Linked DNA regions of Homo sapiens: region 2 is linked to region 1. Evidence: fine-mapped expression QTL. A gene starts in region 1. The other region holds a variant in brackets. All regions are shown on one strand. Distances are from middle to middle.

The links. PIP is the estimated chance that this variant, and not a neighbour inherited with it, causes the effect.
Region 2: its variant is fine-mapped to the expression of QARS1 in whole blood (INTERVAL, PIP above 0.99).

What each region holds. Positions count from the first base shown.
Region 1 is chr3:49,100,066-49,109,273 of GRCh38, reverse strand. It overlaps QARS1 (glutaminyl-tRNA synthetase 1), which reads left to right and starts at 4,517. Exons shown (of 24, transcript NM_005051.3): 1 at 4,517-4,657; 2 at 4,803-4,950; 3 at 5,302-5,411; 4 at 5,568-5,643; 5 at 5,865-5,929; 6 at 6,802-6,855; 7 at 7,009-7,069; 8 at 7,375-7,446; 9 at 7,569-7,654; 10 at 7,833-7,919; 11 at 8,600-8,699; 12 at 8,816-8,894; 13 at 8,976-9,084; 14 at 9,183-9,208. The coding sequence starts at 4,541. It overlaps USP19 (ubiquitin specific peptidase 19), which reads left to right. Exons shown (of 27, transcript NM_001199161.2): 27 at 746-1,224. The coding sequence ends at 862. RefSeq lists enhancers at 3,343-3,992, 4,186-4,345, 4,556-4,745, 5,295-5,945, 8,420-8,920.
Region 2 is chr3:49,576,319-49,585,563 of GRCh38, reverse strand. The region is part of intron 1 of BSN (bassoon presynaptic cytomatrix protein); the gene reads right to left. Among named protein-coding and RNA genes, the nearest start is that of BSN, 26 kb to the right of the region's middle. The variant C/G (reference allele first, on the strand shown) is at 4,302.

The DNA of each region.
Region 1 (9,208 bases):
CCAGGTGGGACTGTCATGGCTAAGGGTCTCAGGGACACTGGGTCCTCCCCACCCCCGGGGTGCTGATGGCCGTTTCCACATACCCTAGGCTTCCCGGATTTGGCAGGAGCTGGAGGCTGAGGAGGAGCCGGTGCCTGAGGGGTCTGGGCCCCTGGGTCCCTGGGGGCCCCAAGACTGGGTGGGCCCCCTACCACGTGGCCCTACCACACCAGATGAGGGCTGCCTCCGGTACTTTGTCCTGGGCACCGTGGCGGCTTTGGTGGCCCTCGTGCTCAACGTGTTCTATCCTCTGGTATCCCAGAGTCGCTGGAGATGAGCTCGCCTGCAGGCAGCTGCTGTGAGCTGGCCTACCTGCCTGCCCCAGGCCATGCCTGCCTTTGTTGTGGGGAACACCTCTGGGCTTTGGGCCTCAGCTTATGCATCTGGTGGGAGAGGGTGGGGAGGTTGTGGCCCCTGCAGGGGCAGAGTATCCTAGGGTGTGTATCCATCTGGCTGTCTGTCCATTCATCCTGCTGCTCTGACCCTTGGCCTCAGGCTTGGCCCTGCCCAAGCTACTTCCTGTACTTAAAAGTGTTAATAAAACCAGACTATTCAGGCCCAATCTCGTCTCTCTGTCTCAACGCCGCTGCTGTCTGCGCCTGCCTTGGGACCCTCCCTTGGGTGCCAGGGCTCCAAGCCAGCACCCCCGGGATGCCAGGCGGCATGCTGGGCAGCCCCCAACCCCTGTCCTCGTATTCTGTTGCAGGGACTAGGCCCTGGCCAGGCCCCCGAGGTGGCCCCCACGCGGACAGCCCCTGAACGCTTCGCCCCCCCTGTGGATCGGCCAGCCCCCACCTACAGCAACATGGAGGAGGTGGATTAGCAGGTCCCTGGCTGATGGGGGGGACTGGGTTTGGGACACCCACACAGAGGGCCAGCTCCTTGCCGCTTCTCCTTCTCTAACCCAGAGGACACTGGCTCTGTCAATGGGAAGCTGAGGGGTATGATTTGGGTGTGGAGACCTCTCAGGTTGGGACTTCTTGTCAGCTTGGACCCCTGACCAGTGGGCTTTGGCTTCTCCAGCCGCCTCCAGTGCTGCGTGATTTGATTCTGTTGTACCTTCAATTCTTCTGACCCGCATTATAAACATTATAATTTTATTCTAAAAATTGTAATTTTTTTTGCATTTTGGAAGTGACTGCTGCTGTTTAAATATATTTTAAAAATAAATAATAAGTAAGTAGACTTAGTGACTGTGATCCACCACATGCTGGGGCCACCTCCCCTCCCCATCATTTGCGGTGTGTATGTGTGTGTATGTGTGTTTATATATGAGAGACCCTGAAAGTGCCCTAGTCTGAAGGGAGATGATGGGGTCCCAGCTCATGTCCTATGGGTCATGAAGCCCCCAGTGCTATCAGCTTTTTGGAGCCTACCTGCTGCTCTTTCATCCCACTGGTTCTGGATCCTACATAAGAGGCAGCTTGGTAGGCATCGTCAGGATCTCAATATAGCCAAGGGACAGAGGAGTATATGAAGCACTGGAGCTGACAGCGTGGAGTAAAAGGTGCATTCACCAGAGCAGCCTGGGGCTGACAAGTCAGGGAGGACTTGGGGGACAGAAGTACTGGGAGATCTTCCTCCTCCTCTCCTGTCCTCAGCTTTTTCTTTGCTGTAACTTGAACACTAACTGCATCCCTGCAGGTAACAGAGCAGGAGGAAAACTGCTGTGGGGCAGATCTTGCTGCCCTGAAAAGAGGACAAGCAGAGAGGACCAGAGTGAATCTTGTCTGACTTCTATTGGAGGGAGGGTGCTGGGGCCTGCCAGCCTGAAGAGTCTTCCCTTAAGAGTTCCTGAAGCCTTCCTTCTTTGGCCAGGCATGGTGGCTCACACTTGTAATCCCCGCACTTTGAGAGGCCGAGGCGAGTGGGTCATGAGGTCAGGAGTTCGAGACCAGCCTGGCCAAGATGGTGAAACCCCGTCTCTACTAAAAATACAAAAATTAGGTGCAGTGGCGGGCACCTGTAATCCCAGCTACTTGGGAGGCTGAGGCAGGAGAATCGCTTGAACCTGGGAGGCGGAGGTTGCAGGGAGCCGAGATCGCGCCACTGCACTCTAGCCTGGGCGACAGAGCAAGACTCCGTCTCAAAAAAAAAAAAAAAAAAAAAAGTTGCTGAAACTGGCCAAGTGTGGTGGCTTATGCCTGTAATCCCAGCACTTTGGGGCGAGGTGGGAGGATAGCTTGAGCCTAGGAGTTCAGGACCAGCCTGGGCAACATAGTGAGACCCTGTCTTTACCAAAAATATAAAAATTAGCTGGCTCTTATGGTATGCACTTGTAGTCCCAAATATTTCAGAGGCTGAGATGGGAGGATCGTTTGAGCCCAGGAGGTTGCTGGACCCTACCTCTGTCCATTCCACGACTGGGCCTTGCTGGCTGCTGCCTGGTTTTTCCACTTGGTCATCTTTGTCTTGACTTTTCCTGGAAGCAGTGCCAGGGGCTTATGCAGGCAAGCTAACCTCCAGACTGGGCCCATACAATTTAACATTTCTGCTTTGTGCAAGTCGTAGACATCTAGGGCACTAGCTGGATATCGACTGGTATGCTACCACTTGTGGCATTCTTGGTGACACTGGTGGGGCTACTGCCTCATTCTATGACTTGTAGCCATGGCGTCCACAGTGTACCATGAAGTAACCAGGGAAGGGAGTGCAGATCTTGATCTCATTGAGGGAGCCATCACTAGACCTGTAGGACTTGGTGATGGTGCTACAGTGAATCTATTGGCAGCATCAGGTACTGAGGAAATAGTGGCAGTGGCAGGCACTCTGCATGGCTTTGCTCACCATGGGCACCTTTATGGTGGGCTGGGTACTTGCAGCTTCAAATTTGGTGCACGGCTGGTGTGGCTATGGCTCTGCTTCTTGGTACCTGTCCTTAGCACCACTGGTCTGCATCCCCTGCTTAATTCCTGCACCTGGCCTTTCTCATGCAGTACACTGCAGGGCTAGGCATCTGGCTGGGGCCACGGGGCCATGGAGATGTGGGAAGCCCCAGGACAGCATTGGACCTGGATAGCGATACAGCATGTGGCCCTGGTCTGCACCTGGCATGTGATCATTAGGTGGTATCCAGATGTAGGCCCAGACTTGGAGGTTGGTCATTAATAATGGGATGTGGGCACAAAAGACACAGAATATAGATAAAGACTAGTCAGGATCCTGCCTATTCCTTGAAGGTCCAGAAGTATGAGCATCACCAATTCCTGCAAGAGCTCCAATCTCAAATGTGGGGATTTCCACCATCCCACCACCAGCTGCTCATTCTCTGCAACCCCCTACCTCAGTCCCTTACTACCTTAGTCCCTTTTCTCACACACACACAAAGTCTCTGTTCTGTTTCAGCCAGCAGGTCCTGGAAGTCCAGTGAGACTGTGGAAAGATCCCCAAGCACAACAGCTATAATCATGAAGCTATAACCATCTCATTTGTCCCACCCTCTCACAAGCTCAATAAAATATCCTCTCAAAGGCCTGCAGAGGGATTTCAAGGTCTAATTTGCTTGTGGTTTTCCTGATAATGCTTTGGCAAGAGGGTAAGTGTGGGATGAGATTTTTTTTTCTTTTCTTTTTTTTTTTTTGAGACAGTCTTACTCTGTTGACCAGGCTGGAGTGCAGTGGCACAATCTCGGCTCACTGCAACTTCCGCCTCCCAGGTTCAAGCGATTCTCCAGCCTCAGCCTCCTGAGTAGCTGGGATTACAGGCGTGCGCCATCACGCCCGGCTAATTTTTGTATTTTTAGTAGAGACAGGGTTTCACCATGTTGGCGAGGCTGATCTCGAACTCCTGGCCTCAAGTGATCCGCCCGCCTCGGCCTCCCAAAGTGCTGGGATTAAAGGCCTGAGCCACTGCGCCCGGCCAAGATTTTAAACCAAATCATCATAGAACTTATGTGAGGTCCCTCCTGGCCCAGACCCGTCCCTTCCCTTTCCTGGCCAGCTGTGTCCAAGTGGGCACCTGAAAACCGGCGGACTTATGGGGCCCCTGGATCGGTCATTCCACACATTCTCTACGATGGAGTCTGGATGAGGGATTTCCTGGGCTTCATTTGTTCAACTGTTTCCATGACAACTCCAAAGCTGTGGCGTCAAAAGCGTGACAGGGACTCGCATTTGCCCCCGAGGACAATTACTATATTGAGATGGAGTTACCAGGGCTGAAGTAGAAAAGTCAGAGCAAAACCACGCCTGTGTCTTCCTCCTGCCTCAGGGACGAACACCTTCCTTCCAGGTCCGTGGCAAATATCTCCAAAAGCCCTGCCGCCTGCCAACACCCCTTCAAGTTCCCAGTTCCACGGAGGCGGAAGCAAAGCCCCCGGAAAGGCCGGTTTGTCCGCCCTGTGTTGTTTAAAGGGGATAGACGACCTTGGAGCGCCCCGCCCCCTCCCGCCAAGGAAGGACCCCATTGGCTCTCCCCGGAGGCTTCACTCTCATTGGTCAGCGAGTGAATGCCGACCTGCAGACTGGGGCCTAAGTTTCTTTTAGTTTCCGGTGTCTCTGCAATGGCGGCTCTAGACTCCCTGTCGCTCTTCACTAGCCTCGGCCTGAGCGAGCAGAAGGCCCGCGAGACGCTCAAGAACTCGGCTCTGAGCGCGCAGCTGCGCGAGGCCGCTACTCAGGTGCGAGCCCCTCTGCCCCCGGCCTGGTTTGCAGACCATGCTGCAACGCAGCGCGGGGCGGGGTCCAGATCCCGACCTGCCCCGTTTGTCCCGCCCTTTCCTCTCACTGAGCGCGGGGCTTCTCTCTTGACCCCTCTGACCTCAGGCTCAGCAGACCCTGGGTTCCACCATTGACAAAGCTACCGGGATCCTGTTATATGGCTTGGCCTCCCGACTCAGGGATACCCGGCGTCTCTCCTTCCTTGTAAGCTACATAGCCAGTAAGAAGATCCACACTGAGCCCCAGCTAAGCGGTGAGACCCCTACCTGTCCTGCCAGTTCGCACCAATGCCTCCCTTCAGCCAAGACCCCTGTCTTCCCTTTTTGCCAAGTCCTCCAGTTTCTTTCTAGACACCTAGTTCTGCACAGGCACTGAGGCATGGAAGGGGTGGCCTATGGTGAGACTGACACGGGAACTGTCAGGGTCTGAGGGGGGATCCACTCTCGACACGTGCTTCTTTCTTCCCTGTGTTCTCTAGGGTGGTGGTGCCAGGGCTTAACTTTTCAGGAGGCCAGACTATCCTTGGAGTTTCATGAGATTAGGACCCTGTCTGTCCACTTCTTGGAGCAGAGATGCCACAAACTCACGGGCTCTTTCTTCTCAGCTGCCCTTGAGTATGTGCGGAGTCACCCCTTGGACCCCATCGACACTGTGGACTTCGAGCGGGAATGTGGCGTGGGTGTCATTGTGACCCCAGAGCAGATTGAGGAGGCTGTGAGTCTTTCCCCAGGCATCGTCTGCCTCCCCAGTCCTGGCCATGGAAAGGAGTGGCTCAGTTTCCCTCCTCAGGAAGACCCAGAGTGAGGGTGTGGGTTCCCAGAATATCTCTAAAGGTGGCTTTCCTGAACCACATGGTTTGGCTTTCTGCAGGTGGAGGCTGCTATTAACAGGCACCGGCCCCAGCTCCTGGTGGAACGTTACCATTTCAACATGGGGCTGCTGATGGGTGAGCAGGGCCTGGAACGGGGCTATATTGTTCTCTCTGGTCATGCCTTTTCTTCTGGGCACGAGTGAGAAGGAGGTGGGGGAAGGAACAGGAGTGACTTAAAGTGGTCTGGCTGGGCTCAGGCTCTGGTTCTGGTGGTCAGCCAGGACCTTTCCTTGGGAAAGAGGTGGGGGGAGTACTCTTTTTTGCCTTTCTGCAGCTCCTTGTGCCTATGCTTCTAGGAGAGGCTCGGGCTGTGCTGAAGTGGGCAGATGGCAAAATGATCAAGAATGAAGTGGACATGCAGGTGAGCGTGCTTCACTAAGCTGAAGCTGGCAAAGACTCTGGCATGAACAGAGCCTGGAATCCACTAAGGGATAAAAGGCAGGAAGAGGGCTGGGCATGGTGGCTCACGCTTCTGATCCCAGCACTTTGGGAGGCTGAGGCAGGAGGATTACTTGAGCCCAGGAGTTCAAGACCAGCCTGAGCAACATATTGAGAACTCCTCTCTACAGAAAATTTAAAAATTAGCCAGACATGGTGGTGTATACCTGTAGTCCCAGCAATTTGTGGGGCTGTGGTGGGAAGATTGCTTGAATCTAAGAGATCAAGGCTGCAGTAAGCTCTGATTGCACCACTGCACTCCATCCTGGAGTACAGAATGAGACCCTGTCTCAAAATCAACAACAATAAAAAAAGGTGGGAGGGGGCTGGGCATGGTGGCTCACACCTGTAATCCCAACACTATTGGGAGGCTGAGGTGGGCAGATCACCTGAGGTCAGGAGTTTGAGAACAGCCTGGCCAACATGGTGAAACCCCATCTCTACAAAAAGTACAAAAATTAGCTGGGTGTGGTGGCGGGCACATGCAGTCCCAGGTACTCAGAAGGGCTGAGGTAGGAAAATCGCTTGAATCCAGGAGGCGGAGGTTGCAGTGAGCGGAGACTGTGCCATTGCATTCCAGCCTGGGCAACATGAGCAAGACTCCAGTCTGGGCAACAAGAGCAAGAGCATTTTAAGCTAGCAGACCCACATGAGAAGAGATGGGATGGGCTAGGTAGGTTTTTTCAGTCAGTGCTGGTAGATAGGCCAGGAAGCCTTGGGTTGGTGGGTAGGATCAGTCAGGGGCTCCTTGAAAGAGGATACTCCTGCCTCTGCCTGATTCTGGTCTCTGCTCAGGTCCTCCACCTTCTGGGCCCCAAGTTGGAGGCTGATCTGGAGAAGAAGTTCAAGGTAGGGATGGGCATGGCCCTGAGTCCCTGAGGGTGAGGTGAGGTATGGTGAGACTTCAGGCTGGGGAAGGAAGTGTCTGACCACAGGGATCCCAAGACCCTATCCAAGAGAAAATTTGATGCCATTTTCTGAAGCACCTGGGGCTTCTTTCAGGTGGCAAAAGCTCGGCTAGAAGAAACAGACCGGAGGACGGCAAAGGATGTGGTGGAGAATGGTGAGAAGCTTGAGACTCCTGTCACAGCATTCAGCTCCCTGACTTCTGAACCTCCTCAGAAGAGTCCTTACAGGCTCCTCAGGCCCTTGGCTTACTCAGTACCCTGACTTCTGTCTCAAGACTGGGATTCCTGGTGTTTCTTTTGTTCCCTTTGCCCAGAGACTGGCATGAGAGGCCTCAGATGTCTGGCTCTAGATATCTTGTCTCTGGAATTGAGGGAATAGGGGTCTACTCAGTTCTGTTCTGGCTGTAGGATATGGTAAATGTATCTAGAGGACAAGTTTTCCTTGTTTTGTTCCCCACAGGCGAGACTGCTGACCAGACCCTGTCTCTGATGGAGCAGCTCCGGGGGGAGGCCCTTAAGTTCCACAAGCCTGGTTAGTGGGCATGTCAAAACCCTGGGGAGGGCTGGATCTTGGCAGCAGCTCCTATAGTCAGGCCCCTGGGGTCAGAGGCTTTGGCTGCAGCCTGGTCCTTAGGCTTATTCTGGTCCTGGCAGGTGAGAACTACAAGACCCCAGGCTATGTGGTCACTCCACACACCATGAATCTACTAAAGCAGCACCTGGAGATTACTGGTGGGCAGGTGTGTGGGGATGTGGCCATGTGAGCTTGTGCCATCAAACACCTGCCTGAGTGCCTGGGCTGCGTCCATACTGCCCCATCTCACCCATCACCATGGCCTTCCTGGGAGGGAACATCTGTTTCTTTAAGGTCATCTGAGCTCAGACTTTATTTCTCTTTTCCCATCCCCCTTATTTTAGGTACGTACCCGGTTCCCGCCAGAACCCAATGGAATCCTGCATATTGGACATGCCAAAGCCATCAATTTCAACTTTGGCTATGCCAAGGTAAGCATGTGTCTAGGGACCTGGCAAGCAAGATGACCACTTGCTGTTCCCATGAGTGGATACCATATCCCTGCCTTGCTGTCTGCTCCCAATAATGTACCCAGGTGGGCAGAGGCCATGGAAAGGAACCACATGTGTGACAGATACCTAGGAATCTATTGAGCTTATTGGAATAAATAGCTCCCTCCCTCTGAGGAGTCAGTGAGTTCAAATTTGGGGGAGTTGCCAGTGCAGTCCCTAGGCTTAGAAAGATGCTAGGTTAGATACAGGAAGGTGAGAGAAGCTCTTGAAGACATTTTTAATTCTGACATGAGTCCGGGTTGGGTGGCTCACGCCTGTAATCTCAACACTTCGGGAGGCTAAAGTGGGTGGATCACTTGAGGTCAGGAGTTCGAAACCAATCTGGCCAACATGGTGAAACCCCATCTCTACTAAAAATACAAAAGTTAGCTGGCCATGGTGGCACACGCTTGTAGTTTCAGCTACTGGGAAGCTGAGGCAGGAGAAACCCAGGAGGTGGAGGCTGCAGTGAGCCAAGATGGTGCAAGATAATCAAGACTCCATCTCAAAAAAAAAGAAAATTCTGACATGAGAGTGCTCTGTGAATATCCTAGTTTGATAAACAGGATTGTGGGGCTGATGGATGATGTGGGAGTTCACAGATGGTGCAACTTTCCTAGGCCAACAATGGCATCTGTTTTCTGCGTTTTGATGACACCAACCCTGAGAAGGAGGAAGCAAAGTTCTTCACGGCCATCTGTGACATGGTAGCCTGGCTAGGTATGGACTAGGCAAAGCCTAGAAGGGCTGGTGGTTAGTGGGCCTCTCCTTGGGCCATGGCCTGCCCACTGGGTGTTTGTGGCTGGCTGCTCATACTTTGTTTCATTTTGCCCCAGGCTACACACCTTACAAAGTCACATATGCGTCTGACTATTTTGACCAGCTATATGCGTGGGCTGTGGAGCTCATCCGCAGGTAAGGCCAGGGCCATGACGTAGAGCCAGGCAGACTGACTAGGTCACAGCCATGCTGGGCACTCACACCGCTTCCCCACAGGGGTCTGGCTTATGTGTGCCACCAGCGAGGAGAGGAGCTCAAAGGCCATAATACTCTGCCTTCACCCTGGAGAGACCGTCCCATGGAGGAGTCACTGCTGCTCTTTGAGGTGGGGTCCTAGAGGAGCATCTGGGTTTGGGTGGGCCAAGGTGCTGAGAATGAGATGCTCCTGTGCTTAGAGACAGCCTGAGTCCTTGTTCCCCTCAGGCAATGCGCAAGGGCAAGTTTTCAGA
Region 2 (9,245 bases), 480 kb before region 1:
CGGCGGACCGGGTGGAGGAGGCAAGGATGTGTGGCCAGTGCACACGGAGTGCAAGGCCGCCTAGTTGGGAGCCGCAAGAGCCTGCCTGGTGTGGCAGGCACACGAAACCCAATCCCTGTCTGTCCGCTGCGGCCTGGGAAGGGAGCGCCGGCCTCACCAGAGGAAGAAGCACGAGGGGAGGAGTTCCGAGAGGAAATAATTAGTGAAATATGTGCAGAAGATACTGGGATGTGGATTTAATTCCGGATGGACAGTGGTGCTTCTGATTCCCTCAGTCTGTTTCCCCACCCACGATCTCCTCTTTCCTTGACCTAGACACACCAAAAATAATTCAATAAAATAAAAATTAAAATTAAAAAAAAAACAACTAAAAATTGGGCTACCATATGATCCATCAATCCCACCACTGGGTATCCACCCAAAAGAAAGGAAATCAATATATTGAAGAGATATCTGCACTCCTGAGTTTGTCGCAGCACTGTTTATAATAGCTAAGATTTCGAAGCAACCTAGGTGTCTAACAACAGCTGAATGGATAAAGAAAATGTGGCACGTATATACAGTGGAGTACTACTCAGCCATAAAAAAAGAATGAGATACAGTCATTTGCAACAATACGGCCAGAACTAGAGATCATTATGTTAAATGAAATAAGCCAGGCACAGAAAGACAAACATCGCATGTTCTCACTTATTCGTGGGATCTGAAAATCAAAACAATTGAACCCATGAACATGGAGAAGAGAAGGATAGTTACCAGAGGCTGGGAAGGGTAGTGGGAGGGTGGTGGAAGAGGTGAGGATGGTTAATGGGTACACAAAAAAATAGTTAGAAAGAATGAATAAGACCTACTATTTGATAGCACAACAAGGTGACTATAGTCAATAATAACTTAATTGTATATTTTTAAATAACTTAAAGAATGTGATTGGATTGTTTGTAACTCAAAGGATAAATGCTTGAGGGGATGGATACCCCATTCTCCATGGTGTGCTTATTTCACGATGCATGCCTGTATCAAAACATCTCAGGTACCTTATAAATATATACACCTACTAAGTGCCCAAAAAAATGAAAAATAGAAAATAAAACAAAAAAGAGAAAAGACCTCAAACCAATAACCTAAACTTCCGACTTAATACTTAGAAAAAGAAGAGCAAACTAAACACAATGTAAATATAATGAAGAAAATAATAAAGATTAGAGGTGAAATACAGAATAGAAAATAGAGAAAGACAATAAAACCAAAAGATGGTTCTTTCAAAAGATAAAAAAAAAATCAATAAGCCTTCTTTTAACAAAGAAAAAAAGATTCAAATGACTAAAATCAGAAATAAAAGAAAGGATGTTACTACCAATCTTAAATAAATTAAAAGGATTGGCCGGGCGTGGTGGCTCACGTCTGTAATCCCAGCACTTTGGGAAGCCGAGGTGGGTGGATCACGAGGTCAGGAGATCGAGACCCTCCTGGCTAACACGGTGAAACCCCGTCTCTACTAAAAATAAAAAAAATAAAAATAAAAATTAGCTGGGCATGGTGGTGGGCACCTGTAGTCCCAGCTACTCAGAAGGCTGAGGCAGGAGAATGGAGTGAACTCGGGAGGCAGAGCTTGCAGTGAGCCGAGATCGCGCCACTGCACTCCAGCCTGGGCGACAGTGCGAGACTCCATCTTGATAAATAAATAAATAAATAAATAAATCGGATTGCAAGAGAATACTATGAACAACCACACATCCTTAGGTAATTTAGATGAAATTGACAAATTCCAAGATGCAAACTATCAAAACTGACTCAGGAAGAAATGAAAAATCGGAATAGACCTATAACACATAAATAAACTGAATAAGTAATTTTAAAACTTCCCACAAAGAAAAGCTTATGCTCAGTTGTCTTCACTGGTGAATCCTACTAACCATTGAAAAAGAATTTATTTTTTAAAAATTTTATTTTATAACAGACAGGGTCTTGCTCTGTCATCCAGGCTGGAATGCAGTGACACAATCATAGCTCACTGCAGCCTCGAACTCCTGAGTTCAAGTGATCCTCCCACCTCAGCCTCCCACAGTGCTGGGATTAGAGGCATGAGCCACTGTGCCCAGCCAAAAATAAATTAATATCAACAAAGATACTACAAGAAAACTACAGATCAATTTTCCTTATGAAAAGAGATGCAAACATCCTTAAGAAAATACTAGCACACTGAATTCAGCAGCATATTAGAAGTATTGTACATCCTTCTATTGGGCTTTATTTCTGGAATGCAAGGTTGACTGAACATCCAAAAATCAATCAATGTTCCAGACACAGTGGCTCACACCTGTAATCCCAGCACTTTGGGAGGCCGAGGTGGGCAAATCACTTGAGGCCAGGAGTTTGAGACCAGCCTGGCCAATATAGTGAAACCCCATCTCTACTAAAAATACAAAAATTAGCCAGGAGTAGTTGCACGCACCTGTAATCCCAGCTACTCTGGAGGCTGAAGCAGGAGAATCTCTTGAACCTGGGAGGCAGAGGCTGCAGTGGGCCAAGATTGCACCACTGCACTCCAGCCTTGGGAACAGAGCAAGACCCTGTCTCATAAATAAATAAATAAATAAATAAATAAATAAATGTAATACACCATATTAATAGAATGAAGGGAATGAAGGGAAGAAACTATATGTTTACCTCAATTGATGCAGAAAAAGCATTTGACAAAAGTCAATACACTTTCATGATTCAAAAGACTTAAGCTAGAAATAGAAGGGAACTTTCTCAATATGATAAGGACTATTTATGAAAAGTTCACAGCTAACATAATACTCAATAGTGAAAAATTAGAAGCTTTCCCTTTACAATCAGAAACAAGACAACGATGTGCAAGGAAGTTTTACCATTTCTATCTAACATAGTACTGGAAGTCCTAGTCAGAGCTATTGGGCAAGAAAAAAAATAAATAAAGGACATCCAAATTGGAAAAGAAGAAGTAAAATTATCTCTACCTGCAGACCACATGATCTTACATGTAGATAACCCTAAACAGGCCACAAAAAAGTTAGAACTAATAAACAACTTCAGCAAAACTGAAGGATATAAAATCAACACACAAAAGGCAGTTCATTTCAGCTGGGCCTGTAGTTCCAGTTCCTCAGTAGGCTGAAGCAAGAGGGTTGCTTGAGCCCAGAAATTTGAGCCTGTAGTGTGTTATGACTGCAAATGTAAATAGCCACTGAACTCCAGCCTGGGCAACACAGCAAGACCCTGTCTTGAAAACAAAAATAGGCAAAGGACTTGAACAGACATTTCTCTAAAGATTTACAAATGGCCAATAAGCCATTGATTAGAAAAATGCAAATCAAAACTACAATAAGATACCACTTCACACTCTTTAGGCTATTACTAAAAACAAACAAAATAAACAGAAAATAACAAGTGTTGACAAGGACGTGGAAAAATTGGAACCCTCATACAATGATGGTGGAAATGTAAAACGGTACAGCTGCTACAGAAAAATTTTTGGCAGCGCCTCGAAAAGCCTAACATAAAATTACCATATGATCCAGGAATTCCACTCTTAGGTTTATATCCAGAGGAAGTAAAACCAGGGACTTGAACAGATACTTGAATGCCAATGTTTATTACACCATTATTCACAATATAGTAGCCCCCACTTATCCTCAGGGGATATGTTCCAAGACCCCCAGTAGATGCCTATATACACAAAGTTTGTTTTTTTTTGTTTTGTTTTTTGGGTTTTTTTTTGAGACAGAGTCTTGCTCTCTCTTCAGGCTAGAGTGCAGTGGCGCGATTTCGGCTCACTGCAACCTCTGCCTCCTGGGTTCAAGCAATTCTCCTGCCTCAGCCTCCCAAGTAGCTGGGACTACAGGCGCGTGCCACCATGCCCAGCTAATTTTTGTATTTTTAGTAGAGACAGGGTTTCACCATGTTGGCCAGGATGGTCTCGATCTCCTGACTTTGTGATCCGCCCACCTCGGCTTCCCCAAGTGCTGGGATTACAGGCGTAAGCCACCATGCCCAGCCTTGTTTTTTCCTACATATACAAACCTATGATGAAGTTTAATATATAAATTAGGCACAATAAGAGATTCACAATAACTAATAATAAAATAGAACAGTTATAACAATATACTGTAATAAAAGCTATATGAATGTGTTCTCTCAAAATATGATTGTACCATACCGTGGGTAACTAAAACCACAGAAAGCAAGACCGCAGATAAGGGGGGACTACTGGAGTCAAAAAGTAGAAACAACCCAAGTGCCCATCAATAAATGGATAGGCCAGGCGCAGTGGCTCATGC[C/G]TGTAATTCCAGCACTTTAGGAGGCTGAGGTGGGCAGATCACTTGAGGTCAGGAGTTCAAGACCAGCCTGGCCAACATGGCGAAACCCAGTCTTTACTACTAAAAATACAAAAATTAGCCTGGCATGGTGGCACACTTCTGTAGGCCCAGCTACCTGGGAGGCTGAAGCATGAGAATCACTTGAGCCCGGGAGGCAGAGGTTGCAGTGAGCCAAGATTACACCACTGCACTCCAGCCTGAGTGATGAGAGCAAAACCCTGTCTCAAAAAGAAAAAAAAAAAAAAGTTAACAGGCGCTGAAGAAAGGGGTCAATGGGGAGGTGCTGGTTAATGGTCAGAGTTTGGGGTGATTAAAAATTTTAGAAATAGATAGTGGTGATGGTTGCACAACATGAATCATGAATATACAGTAATTAATGCCACTAAATTGTACACTTAAAATGGTTAAAATGGCAAATTTATGATATTTATATTTTATCACCATTTTTAAAAGATTAATAATGTGACCAGGCACAGTGGCTCATGCCTGTAAATCCCAGCACTTTGGGAGGCAGAGGCAGGAGGATTGCTTGAGTACAGTAGCTCGAGACCAGTCTAGACTATATAGTAAAACCTGATATCTACAAAATATTAAAAAATTAGCCAGACATGGTGGTGCATGACTGTAGTCCCTTTGGGAGGCTGAGATGAGAGGACTGCTTGAGCCCGGGAGGCTGAGATGAGAGGACTGCTTGAGCCCAGGAGGCTGAGGCTGCAGTGCGTCATGATCGCACCACTGCACTCCAGCCTCGGTGACAGAGCAAGATCCTAAAAAAATTTATAATGTAATACGTAATAAACCACTGAATTATACTCTTTAAATGGGTAAATTTTCTGGCATATTAATTATATCTCAATAAAACTGTCTTAAGATTTCATATTAATCTTTCACAAACTCTTCCAAAAAATAGAACAGGATAAAACACTTCTCAACTCATTCCATGAGGCCACAATTACCCTGATATCAAAACCACACATAAATTGGATGTGGTGGCACATGCCTGTAGTCCCAGCTACTCAGGGGAATAAGGTGGGAGGATCACTTGAGCCCAGGAGTTTGAATCTAGCCTCAGGAACATAATGAGACCCTGTATCTAAATAAAATGAAATAAACAAAATAAAATAATCAAATTAAATTTGTAAAAAAACAGACATAAACATCACAAGAAAACTTTAGACCAATATATCTTGTTACTATAGATGCAAAAATTATAAACAACTACTAGCAAAACAAATCCGGTGACATATAGAAAGGATTTAATATAATAACCAAATGAATTTTTCTCAGACATGCAATTATGGCTTAACATCTAAAAAATCAATTAATATAGCATATTAATAGAATGATGGACAAAAACCATCTATCAAGATTACAAAAACTACATGATCATCTTGATAGATGCAGAAAGCATTTCATACCTTTTCCAATTCAATACCTTTTTATGCTTAAAAAAATTTAACAGACTAGAAATAGAAAGGAATTTCAATTTTTTAAAGCGCATCTAGCCAGGTGCGGTGGCTCACACCTGTAATCCCAGCACCTTGGGAGGCCGAGGCTGGTGGATCATGAGGTCAGGAGTTCGAGACCAGCCTGACCAACATGGTGAAACCCTGTCTCTACTAAAAATACAAAAAAAAAAGAAAGAAAGAAAAAATCAGCTGGGCGTGGTGACGGGCGCCTGTAATCTTAGCTACTTAGGAGGCTGAGGCAGGAGAATTGCTTGAACCCTGGAGTCGGAGGCTGCAGTGAGCAGAGATCCTGCCACTGCACTCCAGCCTGGGCAACAGTGCGAGACTCCGTCTCAAAAAAAAAAAAAATTGTAAAGCGCATCTATGAAAAACCCATACCTAAAATCATACTTATTGATAAATGGATAAAATGTGGTACATCCATACAATGAAATATCACTGGGCAATAAGAAGGAAAGAAGTAACTGGCTGAGTGCAGTGGCTCATGCCTGTAATCCCAGCACTTTGGGTGCCTGAGACAGGAGGATCACTTGAAGCCATGAATTTGAGACCAGCCTGGGCAACATAGGAAGATTCTGTCACTTAAAAAAAAAAAAAAAATTAGCCAGGCATGGTGGTGCATGCCTGTAGTCCTAGCTGCTTGGGAGGCTGAGGTGGGAGGATCTCTTGAGCCCAGGAGTTTGAGGTTACAGTAAGCCATGATCATACCACTGTACTCCAGCCTCCATGTCCTCTGGGTGACAGAGTAAGATTCCCTCTCTAAACAAATAAATGAATAAAGGAATGAAGTGCTGATACACACTACATCTTACATCCTGGATGAGCCTTGGAAAACACACTAAGTGAAAGAAGCCAAACCCCCAAAACACACATTGCATGATTCCATTTATATGAAATGTCCAGAATAGGCAAATCTAGAGAGGTGGATAGTAGATTAGTGGTTACCTTAGGCCTGGAGGATAGATAGAGGGGGGAAGAATGGAAAGTGACATTTTGGGTATGGGGTTTCTTCTTGTGGGTGATGAAAATGTTCTCAAATTGTAGCTTTGGGCCAGGTGCGGTGGTTCACACCTGTAATCCCAGCACTTTAGGAGGCCGACACGGGTGGATCACGAGATCAGGAGATTGAGACCACATGGCTAACACGGTGAAACCCCATCTCTACTAAAAATACAAAAAATTGGCCGGGCAAGGTGGTGGGCACCTGTAGTCCCAGCTACTCGGGAGGCTGAGGCAGGAGAATGGCGTGAACCCAGGAGGCGGAACTTGCAGTGAGCTGAGATCGCACCACTGCACTCCAGGCTGAGCGACAGAGCGAGACTCCGTCTTATAAAAAAAAAAAAACTGTAGCTTTGGTTGTAGAACTCTAAGTGCACTAAAAACCATTGGATGGCACAGTTAAAATGAGTGAATTCTATGGTAAGTGAATTATATCTCAGAAAGATATTTTTAAAAGAGTAACTAGCCAGGCACAGTGGCTTGTGCCTATAATCCCAGTTACTTGGGAGGCTGTGGCAGCATTGAGGGCAGGAGTTTGAGACCATCCTAGGTGGGCAACAAGGACGGTCCTGTCTTTAAGAAAAGGATAGCCGAGCCTACAGCCCCCAAATATGCAATATTCGTTTCTAAATTGTAAGCATGTATTAGTGTGCTAATGTATTAAGCATCCACAAAATTAGAAAATAACAAGTGATGTTTAAAATGAAAAAAGAAAACTTAGGTGTGAAACCTGTAATGATTTAAATGCCTTTCACTGCTGGGAATCAGGACAGTAACCCCGCTACCCCCAGCAGTTCTCAGCTCACTCTATGTAGCAGGCTCTTCCTTTACATAATACCTGCCTAACAACCACACAGGTGGGTATTCTTATCATTTCCATTTTTTCCAAGAAAACTAAAGATTAAAGAAACAAAGCAAGCTGACGCGTTGGCTCATGCCTGTAATTCCACCACTTTGGGAGGCCGAGGCGGGTGGATTACTTGAGGTGAGGAGTTTGAGACCAGCCTGGGCAACATGGTAAAACCCCATCTCTACTAAAAATACAAAAATTAGCCAGGCATGGTGGTGCATGCCTGTAATCCCAGCTACTTGGGAGGCCGAGGCAGGAGAATCGCTTTAACCTGGGAGGTGGAGGTTGCAGTAAGCCATGATCATGCCACTGAGCTCCAGCCTGGGCGACAGTGCGAGACTCTGTCTCACAAAAAAAAAAAAAGAAAGAAAAGAAAAGAAAAAAGAAACAAAGCAGCTGAAGGTCAACAGAAAAACAGGCAGCAAGGCTAGGACCTGGCCTGGGAACTCCTGGCCTCCAAGCCCTGCTCTCACAATCTCAACCCTCTGAAATGAAGTGCTTCCTCTGAAATGCACCAAGAAGGCCAGTTCCTAGGAAACATGTCTCCTAGCTGTTTGCCATTTCATAGAAGATAAAAAATGTTCCCAGTAGGGTAGAATTTGAGTTAAAACCCAGGAACAAACTCTTGTAATTTGATTGCCTAGAAATTCAAAATTCATATTCCTGGGGTAAATTTAGAGGCAGAAGCCTCTCACAAGCCATAGGGAAACAAGCAAGATAGCGAAGAAATTCGGGAGCAGGACATAATTAGTAGCCAACATTAAGTACTGCCTAGAACAGTGTTTGGCATGTAACAGGTGCTCAATACATATTTGTTGAATAAATGAATGACTCCAAGCACTATCGTGCCCTGGAAAGGAGGTCTGACCCAAGGTGGAGATGGACTGCACTAGAAAAAAATTTCAAATTCCAAACACCAAAACCTTTGGAGAAGAGTTCCAGAGAGATGGGAACCACCCTCCTTCCGGATTGGGGTTGAGTCTCTGAAGGGACACAGGCAGCATATACCAATGTAGGGCACCATCTGGCATCAAGAAGAAAGGCAGGATGCTGGCTGCAAATGACTACTCATGCTGCAATGGCCCTGCTCCCAGGGAACCTCTGAAAGCAGTCTTCTGCTCAGATGAGTATGAGCCTGAGCAAGGCAGACTGCCCAGATATGAGGGTATGAATAAAGAAAGTGAGGCCATGCTCAGTGGCTCACGCCTGTAATCCCAGCACTTTGGGAGGCTGAGGTGGGTGAATCACCTGAGGCCAGGAGTTCAAGACCAGCCTGGCCAACATGGTGAAACCCCATCTCTACTAAAATTTCAAAAAATTAGCCGAGCATCATGGTGGGTGCCTGTAATCCTAGCTACTTGGGAGGCTGAGGCAGAAGAATCACTTTAACCCAGGAGATGGAGGTTGCAGTGAGCTGAGATCGTGCCACTGCATTCCAGCCTGAGTGACAGAGCAAGACTCTGTCTCAAAAAAAAAAAGAAAAAAGAAAAAAGAAAAAAAAAGAAAAGTGAATTCACACCTCTTACCAAGGAAGAAACAGGGAATTTCCCAGATATTCCTGCATTCAAGAGACAGCCCTGGCCAGAA